4 linked regions of the Homo sapiens genome follow. The protein of the gene in region 2 purifies or fractionates together with the protein of the main gene of each other region. This does not show direct contact. Each region holds a gene or a part of one and is shown on either strand. Other genes may lie near its edges. The genes, in order: PMPCA, CA5A, SIRT3 and PITRM1.

Region 1 (3,565 bases), on a different chromosome or scaffold from region 2:
AGTGGAGGACTGTTTTTCTAGCAGTGCACTAGTGGAACTGAAGCGTATTAATTTAACCACAACTTTATTTCTTGAATGCTTTTTTTCCTGGCCGGGCACGGTGGCTCACACCGGGATCCCAAAGTAATCCCAGCACTTTGGGAGGCCAAGGCAGGTGGATCACCTGAGGTCAGCAGTTCAAGACCGGTCTGGCCAACGTGGTGAAACCCTGTCTCTACTAAAAATACAAAAATTAGCCATGGGGCTGCGTGCAATGGCTCACACCTGTAATCCCAGCACTTTGGGAGGCCGAGATGGGCAGATGACTTGAGGTCAGGAGTTCAAGACCAGCCTGGCCAACATGGTGAAACCCCATCTCTACTAAAAATACAAAAAATTAGCCAGGTGTGGTGGTGGGTGCCTGTAATCCCAGCTACTCAGGAGGCTGAGGTAGGAGAATCACCTGAACCCGGGAGGCGGAGGTTGCAATGAGTTGAGATCATGCCACCGCACTCCAGCCTGGGCAACAGAGCAGGACTCCGTCTCAAAAAAAAAAAAAAAAAACAGAAAACAAAAAACAAAAAAATTAGCTAGGGTGGTGACACATGCCTGTAATCCCAGCTACTCAGGAGGCTAAGGTAGGAGAATCACCTGAACCCGGGAGGTGGAAGGATGCAGTGAGCTGAGATCATGCCACTGCACTCCAGCCTGAGCAAGACTCTGTCTAAAAAAAAAAAAAAGTGTGTGTATAAAACTTGCTTATTTGTACCACTTCTGGTCCAGGAAGTAACGAGGTTCCCAAATGTGTAAAGCATCAAAAACTAAGCTTAAAAAATTAGTAAACAGGGACGCATGGTGGCTCACACCTGTAATTGTAATCCCAGCACCTTGGGAGGCCAAGGCAACGGATCACTTGAGGTCAGGAGTTTAAGACCACCCTGGCCAACATGGCGAAACCCCGTCTCTACTAAAAATACAAAAATTAGCCAGGCATGGTGGCGCATGCCTGTAATCCCAGCTACTTGGGAGGCTGAAGCAGGAGAATCGCTTGAACCCGGGAGGTGGAGGTTGCAGTGAGCCGAATTTGAGCTACTGCACTCCAGCCTGGGTGAGACAGTGAGACTCCATCTTAAAAAGAACAAAAAAAAATTGGTAAACAAATACAGTTTCAAACATAGAATGGAGCCAGGGAAAGGCTCGAGACACCCCACGCTGCAGCCCACCTGTGCGAGCTGCTTCACCCCAGTCACCTCACAGAGGCGGCTGAGAAGGACACAAAAACTCCTGCAGCGTTTCGCCAGCAAAGCTGAGAGAGTCACATGGTCAGTCCCACGACTCACCCAGTGGCTCAGAGAAAGAAGTAGTGGACCGAGCACTGGGGGAGGGCGGTGGTCTGTTTTTCTGTTTTCGGGGTTTGGACCAGGGAAGAACAGCCTCAGCGGGCTCCCAGGTGGAGCAGCTCAGCCCCAGGCTGTGCCTCCTTGGCCGCCCTGCCCTGCCCTGCCCTGCCGGGACCTTGGCCCTGAGGCTCAGGGACCAGGCCCACAGGTGGCCACTCCTACAACGTGGCTGTCTCCTGTCAGACACCACAGGTACGCCTGGAAATGGCGCCACACTGCACTTACCGTGTCCACGGTTCCGCCCATTAAAATAAACTCCTTTGTGATGATTTCTACCATTTCTCGAACCTGCGAAGAAGGGCAAGACGATAACAGTGTGGCCTGCGCCTGCCGGCCTACTGACCCGTCTAGGCAGGGACGCCCAGGTCTGGACAGGCAACCGCACTGAGGACGGTGGCAGGCGGGGCCCTCACCTGTCTTGGGTCGGCGCTGGCATGGATGCAAAGGAGGCCAGTGTCCTCGTAGCTGTGGTGGTAGGAGGTCGCGTTATACATCCAGTGGTGCCTGGGAGGAAGCGAGAGTCATGGGAGTGAAGGGGACTCGCCAGGATCAGGCCATGGGAAACTGGAGAAAAGTCACCTGGAAGGTGGCCTCATGGTCCAAAAACACACCTGGCCTGGCCTGGTGGCCTGAGGATACAGAAAAGAGTGCAACCCACCTGTTGAGCACGTTGAGGTAGAGCCTGGAGAACATGCCCTTGCCGGGCCCACCAGCCGAGAAGGAGCCACCTCCGCCCATCATCATGTTCAACACTGCAAAGGGGATGAAGTCCTCCTCCTGCAGGGACGGAGGGCAGAGCTGGCTGAACCACCCACGCCACGTCAGGAGCACCGTCAGACGCCAGGGACGGAGGGCAGAGCTGGCTGAGTCGCCCAAGCCACGTCAGGAGCGCCGCTGGACGCCAGGGACGGAGGGCAGAGCTGGCTGAGCCACCCATGCCGCGTCAGGAGCGCCGTCGGATGCCAGGGACAAAGGGCAGAGCTAGCTGAGCCACCCACGCTGTGTCACGAGCGCCGTCAGACGCCAGGGACAGAGGGCAGAGCTGGCTGAGTCGCCCACACTGCATCAGGAGCATTGCTGGATGCCAGGGACAGAGGGCAGAGCTGGCTGAGCCGCCCACGCCCCATCAGGAGCGCTGTCGGATGCCAGGGACAGAGGGCAGGGCTGGCTGAGCCGGCCACACTGCATCAGGAACGCCATCAGACCCAGCACCAGGACTCACCAGGAAGGAGCAGCTCTCCAGTCCAACCATGATGTGCGTGAGCTCGGGGATGGGGGTCGGGCCCAGGCTGACATTGGACATGTCTCTTTCTAGCTGTAACCAAGAAAACAAGCAAGTGTCGCCATGTGAAAAACAATGAGGGCTCGCAAACCCCAGATGAGATCATCTTCAGAGTGGTTACACAGAAATCCAATGCCAGCCAGGCACAGTGGCTCATGCCTAAAATCCCAGCACTTTGGGAGGCCAAGGTGGGCAGATCACTTGAGTCCAGGAGTTCAAGACCAGCCTAGGCAATGTGGCAAAACTCCACCTCTACCAAAAAGACAAAAAAAAAAAAACATATGTATATACATATAAGCTGGGCGTGGTGGCTTACGCCTGTAATCCCAGCATTTTGGGAGGCTGAGGCAGGTAGATCATGAGGTCAGGAGTTCGAGACCAGCCTGGCCAACATAGTGAAACCCCATCTCTATACAAAATTTAGCCGGGCGTGGTGGTAATCCCAGCTACTCGGGAAGTTGAGGCAGAAGAATCACTTGAACCTGGGAGGTGGAGGTTGCAGTAAGCCGAGATTGCACCACTGCACTCCAGCCTGGGTGACAGAGCGAGGCTCCATCTCTAAAAAAAAAAAAAAAAAATGCAACACGCAGTGGCAGACCCACTCCCCTAGAGAAAGAACCGCATCCACCTTTTGTGTTGCTCTCAGGCCTAGCAGCACTCATTCTCAGCAGGGGACACAGTCCATGCCCTGCTGTGGGACTACAGCATGTGTTAAGGCAAAGCTACACATGCAGTCAACACCTATCACCCTCAGAATCAATACAAAAACAGGTCACACCACGGGCCAGGGGACGTGTTCCCCACCCGAGGCCATGAGACGTTCCCGCTACTTCACCTTGGCAATCCCCCCAGTGTACTGGGCCACAGATCTGTCAATATCCACGGCCTCTGCGCTCCCCCAGGC
Region 2 (4,142 bases):
CCTTGGGTGACAGAGCAAGACCTCACCTCAAAAAAAAAAAAAAAAAGAAAGAAAGAAAGAAAGAAAGAAAGAAAGAAAAGAAAAGAGGCTGGACGCAGTGGCTCATGCCTGTAATCCTAGCACTTTAGGAGGCCGAGGTGGGTGGATTGCCTGAGCTCAGGAGTTCGAGACCAGCTTGGGGAACACAGTGAAACCCCGTCTCTACTAAAAATACAAAAAATTGGCCGTTGTGGTGGTGTGTGCCTATAATCCCAGCTACTCAGGAGGCTGAGACAGGAGAATTGCTTAAACCTGGGAGGCAAAGGTTGCAGTGAGGCAGGATCACGCCATTGCACTCCAGCCTGGGCAACAGAGCGAGACTCCATCTCAAAAAAAGAAAGAAAGAAAAGAAAAGAAACGAAGAAAAGAGGCTGGGCGTAGTGGCTCACACTTGTAATCCCAGCACTTTGGGAGGCCGAGGCAGGCAGATCACCTGAGGTCAGGAGTTCAACACCAGCCTGGCCAACGTGGTGAAACCCCATCTCTACTAAAAATACAAAAAATTAGCTGGGCATGGTGGTGGGCGCCTGTAATCCCAGCTACTCAGGAGGCTGAGGCAGGAGAATTGCTTGAACCTGGGAGGCAGAGGTAGCAGTGAGCCGAGATCACGCCATTGCACTCTAGCCTGGGCAACAGAAGTGAAACTCTGTCTAAAAAAAAAAAGAAAAGGAAAGAAAGAAAGGTGGCCCTGTTAATGTTTATGCCAAGACAGCAGGCATGACCTGGAAGTGTCCGAAGCCACAGGGCATCTTGCTTCCGGGGAGGATGAATGAATCAAATCGCACCTATTTTAAGGCAAGCAAGGACTCCATGACTTCAGGAGCCCTGGTGGGTGGACAGAAGCTCCCTGCTCCCCTGGCCTGTCTACCCAGCAGCGCTTTGGCCAGTCCCATTCCTGTACTTCTGAGCCTGCCTGCCAGTCCCTCCTCACATGCACACCATGGCTTTGTGCCTGGTATTGAGTGTCCCGGAGCCCCAAACCACACGGTCAACCCCATGAAAGAAACAGGGACTCTGCTCTCATCCACTCGCCCCCGCCTCCCGCGTAATCCCCTGGTGCTCACGCAGCCCCACCGTACAGTTTTTCTAGCTCCCTGGCAGACTTGTGCTCCTGTTTGCCAGATCAAAGCCCAGTGACCTGAGTGGCCTGTCCCCAGCAGAGGCCACTAATCCCTGTGGACCCACCCTGTTGGGAAAGGCATGGGTTGAACTTTAACCATTAGGCTCAGGGGTTGGGATGAGTTTCTACAAAAAGAGGTGGGTACACGCCAGTCCACAGTGGTCCTGATCAAAGTGAGAACAGACAGCAGGGAACATCACCCTCTTCAGACTGGAGTCAGTGGGAACAGACCCAAGATGTTGGGGAGGAACACTTGGAAGACCTCAGCTTTCTCCTTCTTGGTTGAGCAGATGTGGGCCCCTCTCTGGAGTCGTTCGATGAGGCCAGGGCGATGGTGTTCTCAGCGTTCCTGTGCATGGCAAACCAGCAATAACACTTGTAAGTAGAGCCTCAAATTTCCTAAGATGCGACTGGATCCTTGTCTTAGCTGATGGGGTCTTTCGAGAGGAGAGAGGAGAGACCGTCCCGAGCCAGATGGGTTCAGATTTCCACTCCGTTTTTTTTTTTTTTTTTTTAAGATGGCGTCTCGCTCTGTGGCCCAGGCTGGAGTACAGTGGCGTGATCTCAGCTCACCACAACCTCCACTTCCCGGGTTCAAGCGATTCTCCTGCCTCAGCTTCCTGAGTAGCTGGGACTATAGGTGCATGCCACCACTCCTGGCTAATTTTTCGTATTTTTAGTAGAGACAGGGTTTCACTGTGTTAGCCAGGTTGGTCTCGAACTCCTAACCTCGCGATCCGCCTGTCTCAGCCTCCCAAAGTGCTGGGATTGCAGGCATCAGCCACGGCGCCCGGCCCTCTTTTTTCTTTTTTTGATGAAGTTTTGCTCTTTTGCCCAGGCTAGAGTGCAATGGCATGATCTCGGCTCACTGCAACCTCTGCCCTCCAGGTTCAAGTGATTCTCCTGCCTCAGCCTCCAAAGTAACTGGGACTACAGGCACCCGCCACTGCACCCAGCTAATTTTTTGTATTTTGGTAGAGATGGGGTTTCACCATGTTGGCCAGGCTGGTCTCGAACTCCTGACCTCAGGTGATCCACCCACCTTGGCCTCCCAAAGTGCTAGGATTACAGGCGTGAGCCACCGCGCCTGGCCACACTCCGTTTCTCTTGTATTTGGTGACCTTGGGTGAATCATTTAGCCTCCGTTTCAGGGGTCCTGGGGAGGGCAAGATGCTGGGAGCAGGCGGGTAGTCCGTGTTCGCACGGGACACACTGGCACGACTCACCATCCAGACCCGGCGGAATGGGCTGCACTAACCAGTCACGATCGCTCCTAAACTCTTCGGCAGAGAACGCTTTCAAGCAAACCTGTAACAAATAAACCACTCAGCCAGCTCTGCCAAGAAACTGCCCCGTGCCAGCCCCTCCTGGCTTCATGGTCAGTGCCTTGTGACCTTGAACGAGGCCCTTCCTCTTTCTGGGTCTCAGGTGCTTCCTCCGTAGAATGAGAGCCTGCTTTGGCAGCTGCCAAGTTCTCTTCTAACTGAAATCTTCCATGCATTCCATGTTTGGGCCATTGAAAGAGCATGGGCTTAGGAGCCAGACCCCAGGCATGCAGTCCGACTGACGCTTGCTGAGGTGGAGCCTCGGCAGGTCTTCACCCCCAAGCCTCTGTGTCCTTATCTCGAGATGGGGGTGGCCAGACTTTCTCTCCAGGGCCATGGAAGGATGACACGATGCGTGTAGAAAGCCTGGCCCACCCCAGACTCTGAGTGAGCTACACTCATTCCTCCTGTTGGGGTCCACACCTGTGGACTGGAGTGCAGTGGTGCGATCTCGGCTCACTGCAGCCTCTGCCTCCTGGGTTCAAGCGATCCTCTTGACTCAGCCTCCCAAGTAGCTGGGACTACAGGCGTGTGCCACCACGCCCAACTAATTTCTGTATTTTTAGTAGAGATAGGATTTCGCCATGTTGGCCAGGCTGGTCTCAAACTCCCGACCTCAGGTGGTCTACCTGCCTCGGCCTCCTAAAGTGCTGGGATTACAGGCGTGAGCCACTGCACCCACCCCCCTTTTTTATTCTTAGTACGACCGTCAAGAGCGCTAGCCTGCCTAGATTGGAATCTTGGCCCCACTGCTCTATGGCTGTTGCCCCTCTGTGACTTTCCTTTATTTTTTGAGACTAATTTCTGTCTTGTTGCCCAGGCTGGAGCGCAGTGGTGCGATCTCCAGCTCACCGCAACCCCCACCTCCCAGGTTCAAGCAATTCTCCTGCCTCAGCCTCCCGAGTAGCTGGAATTACAGGCATGCGCCACCACATCCGGCTAATTTTGTATTTTTAGTAGATACAGGGATTCTCCATGTTGCTCAGGGTGGTCTTGAACTCCCAGCCTCAGGTGATCTGCCCGCCTCAGCCTCCCAAAGTGCTGGGATTGCAGGCGTGAGCCACCACGCCCAGCTGTCCCCTCTGTGACTTTCTTAACTTCCCCCAGCCTTGGTTTTGTCGTCTGTAACAGGGGGTTGATAATGGTGCTTACGGCACAGTGTCGTTGGGAGAAGGGTCCGAGGTGGGGCCTGCAAAGGCTGGGGACAGCACATGGCTCCAGGAAGCCCTTGCTAGACGCCAGCTGCTGCTGTTGCTAACACAGGCAGCGGTGGGTGCCCTGTGTCTATTTAAGCATTTCCCTGTCAGTGGGCAGCAGGTAGCATTCCATTTCTTACTGTGGCAACATGTCCTCTTACATCGTGTGCTAGAGAGAGTCATATTCTGTATCGGCACCTAAATCCATTTACACCATGGTCCTCAACCTGTTCCCAGTGAACAGAGGGCTCTGCCAAATCATTTCAGAGTTCCACAAAGAGCAGAATATTCTGCCAAGCAGAGAAGATTGGAACATCATAAGGAATTCATCCTTCTATGTCGGTGTTTTATTTATGGGCATTCTGAAGATTATTTCACTTGGAAAAAGAATATTGTTACTAAAAATTATTGAAAAATCACTGGTGGTTTGGCCTTGAGAGAAAAGTCAAAGAGTTACAAAAC
Region 3 (3,565 bases), on a different chromosome or scaffold from region 2:
CATCAGCACACCCAGTGGCATTCCAGACTTCAGGTACTGCCCACAGTCCCACCTGCCTTCTGCGCTCCCCTCCCCTGACTCCTGCCCTCCCCACTGCCCAGTTTATTCCACTTCCCTGTCCTCTTCCAAAGGCCTCAGAGCCTTTCTTCTCTCCCTGCAGATCGCCGGGGAGTGGCCTGTACAGCAACCTCCAGCAGTACGATCTCCCGTACCCCGAGGCCATTTTTGAACTCCCATTCTTCTTTCACAACCCCAAGCCCTTTTTCACTTTGGCCAAGGAGCTGTACCCTGGAAACTACAAGCCCAACGTCACTCACTACTTTCTCCGGCTGCTTCATGACAAGGGGCTGCTTCTGCGGCTCTACACGCAGAACATCGATGGGCTTGAGAGAGGTGAGCCCTCTGTGAGTCGCACACATTCTTTTTCTCCCACGGAGGCTCGGGTGCCTGTTTCTCCCAGGGAGGCTCGGGTGCCTGTTTCTCACAGGGGATGCTCGGGTGCCTGTTTCTGGGGACGGCCAAAACCTATCGCTTATGCTTCTTCCTTGGGACTTTTTTTGAGCCAACTAGTTAGGGCTTTGTTCCCAAGGAAAATGTCCTCTGGGTGTTTAAAGGCCACTGCTTGTTCTCCTGCATACCTGCAGAGCTGTGTATTTTGGGCAGAAGTTGACATTGTTTTGCCAATCTGGTGTGATGATCTCTTTTTTTCTTCTCTCTTTTAAGAAGTGTATTATGGAATTTTTTTGAGCACACACAAAGAGAGCAATGTAACGAACCGTCCTGTCCTCATCACCAGCACACAGCCAGTTCTTCCTGCGTCCTCACCACCTTCTTCCAAATCCCCAGATTATTTTGAAGCAAATCTCTCACATCATGAATTTAATCTAGAAATAATCTATAAACACATGAATGGATAGCTCTAGAGAATACTTTAAAAACAACTCCGGCCGGGTGCCGGATTACAGGTGTGGGATCACACCTGTAATCCCAGCATTTTGGGAGGCCGAGGCAGGTAGATCACCTGAGGTCGGGAGTTCGAGACCAGCCTGGCCAACGTGGCAAAACCCCGTCTCTACTAAAAATACAAAAAATTAGCCAGGCGTGGTGGTGTGTGCCTGTAATCCCAGGTACTCGGGAGGCTGAGACAGGAGAATCTCTTGAACCCAGCAGGCGGAGGTTGCAGTGAGCCGAGATCGTGCCACTTCACTCCAGCCTGGGCGACAGAGGGAGATTCTGTCTCAAAAAAATAAATAAAAATAAAAATAATTAAAAAATAAAAACAACTCTGATAGTGATTCACACTGAAGAATCACTAGTAATTCCTTAATATGGTCACACTTAGTCTGTGGTGATTTCTTGACCGTATCCATATGGTGCCCAAACCAGCGATTCACAGGTTGTGCCAACTTCTGGCCGTGCACCTAACGGAAGCACTTGGTGGGGCCTTTTCCTTACGTGCAGTGATGCAGACAGGTGCTGGGACAGTCAGCTCTCCGGGAGCCAGGCTCCCGGAGAGACTGCTGATGTGTTGTCAGTTAAAAAGAGGTGGCACCTTGGCTCCAGGAATGTGTTTCCTTGCCAGAAGGATCCCCTGACTTGGAACCACAGAGGCAGCAGCGGATGCCCCATGTTGGTGGGCTCTTCTCCCAGAGGTGCAGCAGGGCAGGCCTTGTGGGAAGGTGGGAGCTCCTGGCTGTGAGATTCAGCACTGCTGAGTTAGGGCAGCGACAGGGACTTGGGAAGCCTCCTGCAGCTGGGACCCTGGCTGTGCCACCGCAGCCTTTCAGAACCAGTTAATACTAACACAACTTTCATAAGAAGTCACTTTTTGTCTGTTTCTACCAAGCAATTCTTTTGGAATTTATGATATTTATATCCTCATTTTAACTTGGTATCTGTAGAATAGAAGATATGTTCCTGGATATTAGATATAAATTTTTGAGACAGGGTCTTGGCTCTGTTGCCCAGGCTAGAGTGCAGTGGCATGATCATAGCTCACTATAGCCTGAACTCTTGGGCCGAAGTGATCCTTTTGCCTCAGCCTCTGGAATAGCTGGGACTACGGGCATGCACTACCATGCCTGGCTAATTAAAAAAATTTTTTAAGACAAGTCTCACTATGTTGCTGAGGCTGGTCTCAAACTCCTGGCCTCAAGTGATCCTCCTGCCTTGGCCTTCCAAAGCACTGGGATTACAGGCATGAGCCACTGCACCCAGCCTGGTATTAGGTGTAATTTTTTTTTTTTTTTTTGAGACAGAATCTCGCTCTCTTACCCAAACTGGAGTGCGGTGGCACGACCTCAGCTCACTGCAACTTCCACCTCCCGGGTTCAAGCGATTCTCCTGTCTCAGCCTCCCCGAGTAGCTGGCACTACAGGTGCCTGCCACCACATCTGGCTAATTTTTGTATTTTTAGTAGAGGTACGGTTTCACCATGATGGCCAGGCCGGTCTTGAACTCCTAGCCTCAAATGATCTGCCCACCTCGGCCTCCCAAAGTGCTGGGATTACAGGTGTGGGCCACTGTGCCCGGCTGGATATAATTTTATTTGAGCTTTTATCAAATGGTTTTTCGTACTGAGTTTTGACAGGCTTTGTTTTAACCGTGATTTGGCTCCAGCTAGGTGCCCCTTTGCTCCCCTGCCTTATTCTGGTTGATGGCGCATGTAGGTGATACGGGCATGAAAACCAGGCTTGAGGACATCACAACCCCAAGGGGCTGTGCCTCCTTCCAGGAGTCCTGCCAAGCCCAGAAGTTGTGCTCTTGGCCTTGCGTGCTCATCTCGGAGGCGGCAGCAACACTTCGCTTTGGCTTGAATTTCAGTGTCGGGCATCCCTGCCTCAAAGCTGGTTGAAGCTCATGGAACCTTTGCCTCTGCCACCTGCACAGTCTGCCAAAGACCCTTCCCAGGGGAGGACATTCGGGTGAGTTATCCTGCTGTTGGTTGTCCTTCTGCAGTTTGCTGTTGGGGTGATCTGGAAAAGTGGTATTTTATAAGCATTGTCTCGAAAGGACAGTTGAACAATAATAGTGTGAAACATTTTATTTGTAAATTAGAAAATCAATACATGCTTGTAAAAAAATTTAAGACAATATAGAAATATGTAGGGAAAATGAATCTCCCTTCAGCCAATTCCAGCTGCCCACTTTTTTTTTTTTTTTTTGAGATTGAGTCTCACTCTGTCGCCCAGGCTGGAGTGCAGTGGGCGATCTCGGCTCACTGCAACCTCCGTCTCCCGGATTCAAGGAATTCTTCTGCCTCAGCCTCCTAAGTAGCTGGGATTACAGGCGTGAGCCACCACGCCCGGCAATCAGATGGCCTTTTGTGCCGAGCTTATTTCCTGAAAATGTTTCTCGCTCCTTCGCCTTGTAGCTTGTGTTAGTATTTCATCCTGTTTCATGGCTAAATGTTCCACTGATGTATGCACCACAGTTGGTTTGTTTGTACATGGATGGGTGTTTGGGTTGTCCCACCTTTCTGCTCTTGTGTATAGTTCTGCTGTGGAGCATATGCAAGTATTCGTTTGAGAGTCCTTGTTTTTTATTCTTTTGAGTATGATACCTA
Region 4 (3,565 bases), on a different chromosome or scaffold from region 2:
ACAGCCAGGCCACCTGGAAAGTGAGTGCGCCAGAAAGAAACTGGGCCTGCACACTCCTCTGCCGTCCCCTAGAGGGTGCCCAGGAGAAACCCGGGCCGACCAGGTGTGACCTGTGGGACCCCGTGCAACAAACACTTTGGGGCCAACTAGAAAATCTGAATATGGAATAAGAAATAGGCAGTTTTAAGAAAGTATGTTTTATTCTATTAAAACTGAAAATGGCATTAGCTCATGTAAGAAAAAATCCTCACGTTTTAGGGTCACAAATTCAAACATTTACGGGCAAATGATCATGACGTCTATAATTTACTTCCAAAAACTTCAGCAAGGGAAAGGATATCTATTACATGATAAGTGTTTAGGGGCTCATTATTCTAGTATCTCTACTTTTCTGTATGCTTCAAGTTTTCATAATTATTTTTACATAAAATAATCTTGCAAATATGTTTTTACATTAGCATTCATATGTAAATACAATTAGTGTTTTATATAAGATATATGACTATATTATTATTATAATGACCTTGTATTAGTGACATAAGAACAAGCAATGTATCAGAAAGTGAGGATGTAATTAAGGTTCAGTAACTGCATCCACTATTGGAAGAGCACTTCTCCGTGCCAAGGAGAGGGCTTCAAGCTTCACACCCCGTGTCAAGGTGGGCACCATCCATGCACCCCCACTTTCCACGCAACCAAGCTAGATGTGAGGCAACAGGCTGCGGGGCCAGGACCCTCCTCTGGGGGACTCTAAACGCTGTGTTTGTAACCACCATGCTGAGCCTCCTGAGGGCTATCATTGTAAATGTCCAAAATCAATGTCCAAGTAAGATAGGCAAACTTAGGCCAAGAATCTTACCTAGACTTAGATATTTCTTAAGCATTGCTAAATGTGAGAGAAGCCATGCCATAAACTGTTAAGAACACAAACAAGTCAACTTTTCACAATCCACCATCAAACTTTTCCAACAAAATATTACCTAGCATTGCTTGGGTGATAGTGAGTGGCATGAAACTGCTTAAGCTGCTCCCATGTAAGCTCCGGGATGCACAGTGGGTCACCCCCGGAGACCACTGAGTACGTGTGGTCAGGAAGAAGTCTGTTCTGAAGGTGCTGGGAGAATATCCTCTCATTGTCTGTCTTGAAACGTAAAATAAATAAATCATAAGTATACATGTAAAATAATACACACGTTACATTACTTACAATATAGCCAATTGATCACATTCTGGTGCATACACCTGTAATACTTTGCAAATAAAGCTGTTCTAATGGTTTAAAAAAAAAAAAAAAACACCCACGCAGGCATTGTTTAACACGGTATTCAATCATTCATCACCCACGCACAGGACCCAAGGATTGAGAAGAACAATGGATTTTTTGATGTGTGGTGCAACAAACGCATAGCTGAGGGCTGTAAATCGGGATGGATCAGTCGGTCTGCCCACCAGCCGTGAGGGAAGTGGGGAGAAGCTGTCACCCCAACTTGAGTTCAAGAAGACTCCTTGGAAGAAAAGACCACCAAATTGAGAATGAAAAGGTAAGAAATAGTTCACCAGCCGAGAGGAGCTACGGGAATCAGAGAGCAGGCCACCCATGAGCCTCAGGGACACCAGGACAGACAGGTTGTCCAAGTCACAAAGGGACATGAAGACATGGGCCCAGGACAGCAGCTCTTAATCCAAAATGGTCTCAAGAATCCTTTACACTCTGAAAAATTAACCCATTTATGCCTGAGGTTGCAATTTTTTTGTAAAAAATCAGACCTTGGCGATGACCTTGAGCTGTAGGACATAAATAACTCCCACAAGCTTAGGGTGCCAATAATGGAACACTAGGCATAAATGCGTTTTAATGAGGACCCAAACAGCTTTTGATTATGTGGGCGTTTTTGCCTGTGTAGGTGCCTGTGTGTGTTTATATAATTTTTCTATATTCTAAATTAAAGCTGAGACATTTAAAAAATACTTATTCATTAAGGTAAGCCATCATTACATGTTGATATAAATATTTTTGAAAAATACTTCTCATAACAAAGTAAAAAACTGATTAGAGTGGTGCTGTGTTGCCTTTTTTGCAAATCTCTGTAGCGTCTGGCTCAGAGGTGAAGCTGGACTCCCCCATTTGCTCTGTATGCAGCTCGCTGTGTGTCACACACCTTGCCATGCAGCCTCTAGAAAGTACACCGTGTACTTGGGCAAGAATGAATGAAAAGACACTGTCTTGGTAGTGGTATGAAAATAGCTTTTATCTCACAGACTTGCTGCAGATCACATACCAGGGGTCCCCAGACATGGTCTGAGACCTGCTGGGAAGAACAGCAGCCTGGCCCTGCTACCCCGACTTCTGCTCACAGCACTGACCCCAGCTAATTCAAGAATGTATCACCTATAATGAGAATATTAAATAAAATCTTCCAGATGTGTCTATATCATGATATTGTACATGGGAAAGGTAAGCTGAACACAACATAAAAAAGGAAGAAAACTTACAAACGCTCCCTTCATCTCATTAAAGACGACTCCTTTAAAGACCAAGGGCGTCTGGGGGTCGCTCGGATTCTCATGTTCCAGCCGCCATCCTTCCTGCCTGAGGACAAATCATTATAAGCTGATAGTGACTCAAATACTAAAGTCTGTATCAACTAGTTAATCATTCATGACATACCAGAAATCCAGCTCGCGTAAACATGGGAAAAAGGTGGCATCCAAATACACCGAGAGGAGATTCTGAAAGTCCTTGGGATTTTGTGTGGAAAATGGATACAGAGTATAATCACTAGCTGGGTACAAATGAAAAGTGAAATTGTAAAATATAACAGATTTCTACTAAAATTATTGACTCTCAAGACTCATTCCCCCTTTGTCCTAGGACAGTAAGCTGTAGCTATTCTTGGGATGGGGCAGTGGCCCCATGCTCTGGTCCCTGGCCTCAGCAGCTGTCCCAGCTCATAACCCCAAGTGCCGGCTTTCCCATCCCGTCTCAGGATCTGCACTCGACGGGCACCAGGGCTTTCTTCAGCGAATATCTAAACTCTCTCAAGTTTCTCCAGAGACTTTCATACATCTACAAAGATGACCTCATTCTGTAACAGCATGGATTTAACCCGCTCTTCAATGTCACTCCCCCACAGAATGCACTGTTCATCGTCACCCTATCCACTATCGTCAGTCTTACTAAAAGTCAAACATCAACATTAGTAGTAACTCTGGCATTGTAGCGATATCTCCAAGAGAAAATTGTTTTGAACTTTTCTGGGAAAAGTTCACATATGTTTTCTTAAAACGCTAGTTTTTACAATCTCGCTACCATGTGGCTTTCCTGAAGGATTAAATTTCTAATGTCCTTCAACTAGAGAGAGGTAAAAATTTTTCTAGAACATGAATTGCCCACTCCCCTCATTCCTTCTCAGAAACTAACTGAATTCCAGTGGGTGTGCCTGGCAAACCCAAAAGCAGTTTCTGTTCAGGATGCTGGTCTTACCTGTGAAGGCGTTCATGAACGTGGAGAGGGACCGGTTCAACATTTTGAAGAAAGGGTCTCTGCACGGATATTTCTGAGACC

The links.
Region 1: the proteins of CA5A (region 2) and PMPCA purify together in Homo sapiens (affinity purification with mass spectrometry; one large-scale study listed by BioGRID and IntAct). This does not show direct contact.
Region 3: the proteins of CA5A (region 2) and SIRT3 purify together in Homo sapiens (affinity purification with mass spectrometry; one large-scale study listed by BioGRID and IntAct). This does not show direct contact.
Region 4: the proteins of CA5A (region 2) and PITRM1 purify together in Homo sapiens (affinity purification with mass spectrometry; one large-scale study listed by BioGRID and IntAct). This does not show direct contact.

Annotation. Positions count from the first base shown.
Region 1 is NC_000009.12:136,417,146-136,420,710, reverse strand, and holds part of PMPCA (mitochondrial-processing peptidase subunit alpha isoform 1 precursor), read right to left. Parts: coding exon 3,497-3,565; intron 2,695-3,496; coding exon 2,602-2,694; intron 2,157-2,601; coding exon 2,038-2,156; intron 1,884-2,037; coding exon 1,793-1,883; intron 1,668-1,792; coding exon 1,605-1,667; intron 1-1,604. UniProt on the Homo sapiens protein: Substrate recognition and binding subunit of the essential mitochondrial processing protease (MPP), which cleaves the mitochondrial sequence off newly imported precursors proteins.
Region 2 is NC_000016.10:87,933,704-87,937,845, reverse strand, and holds the start of CA5A (carbonic anhydrase 5A, mitochondrial isoform 1 precursor), read left to right. Parts: upstream 1-1,316; 5' UTR 1,317-1,395; coding exon 1,396-1,537; intron 1,538-4,142. UniProt on the Homo sapiens protein: Mitochondrial carbonic anhydrase that catalyzes the reversible conversion of carbon dioxide to bicarbonate/HCO3.
Region 3 is NC_000011.10:229,811-233,375, reverse strand, and holds part of SIRT3 (NAD-dependent protein deacetylase sirtuin-3, mitochondrial), read left to right. Parts: coding exon 1-33; intron 34-160; coding exon 161-393; intron 394-2,669; exon of another isoform or gene 2,670-2,823; coding exon 2,824-2,924; intron 2,925-3,565.
Region 4 is NC_000010.11:3,162,745-3,166,309, forward strand, and holds part of PITRM1 (presequence protease, mitochondrial isoform 2 precursor), read right to left. Parts: coding exon 3,485-3,565; intron 2,784-3,484; coding exon 2,669-2,783; intron 2,591-2,668; coding exon 2,494-2,590; intron 1,142-2,493; coding exon 981-1,141; intron 1-980. UniProt on the Homo sapiens protein: Metalloendopeptidase of the mitochondrial matrix that functions in peptide cleavage and degradation rather than in protein processing. Has an ATP-independent activity. Specifically cleaves peptides in the range of 5 to 65 residues.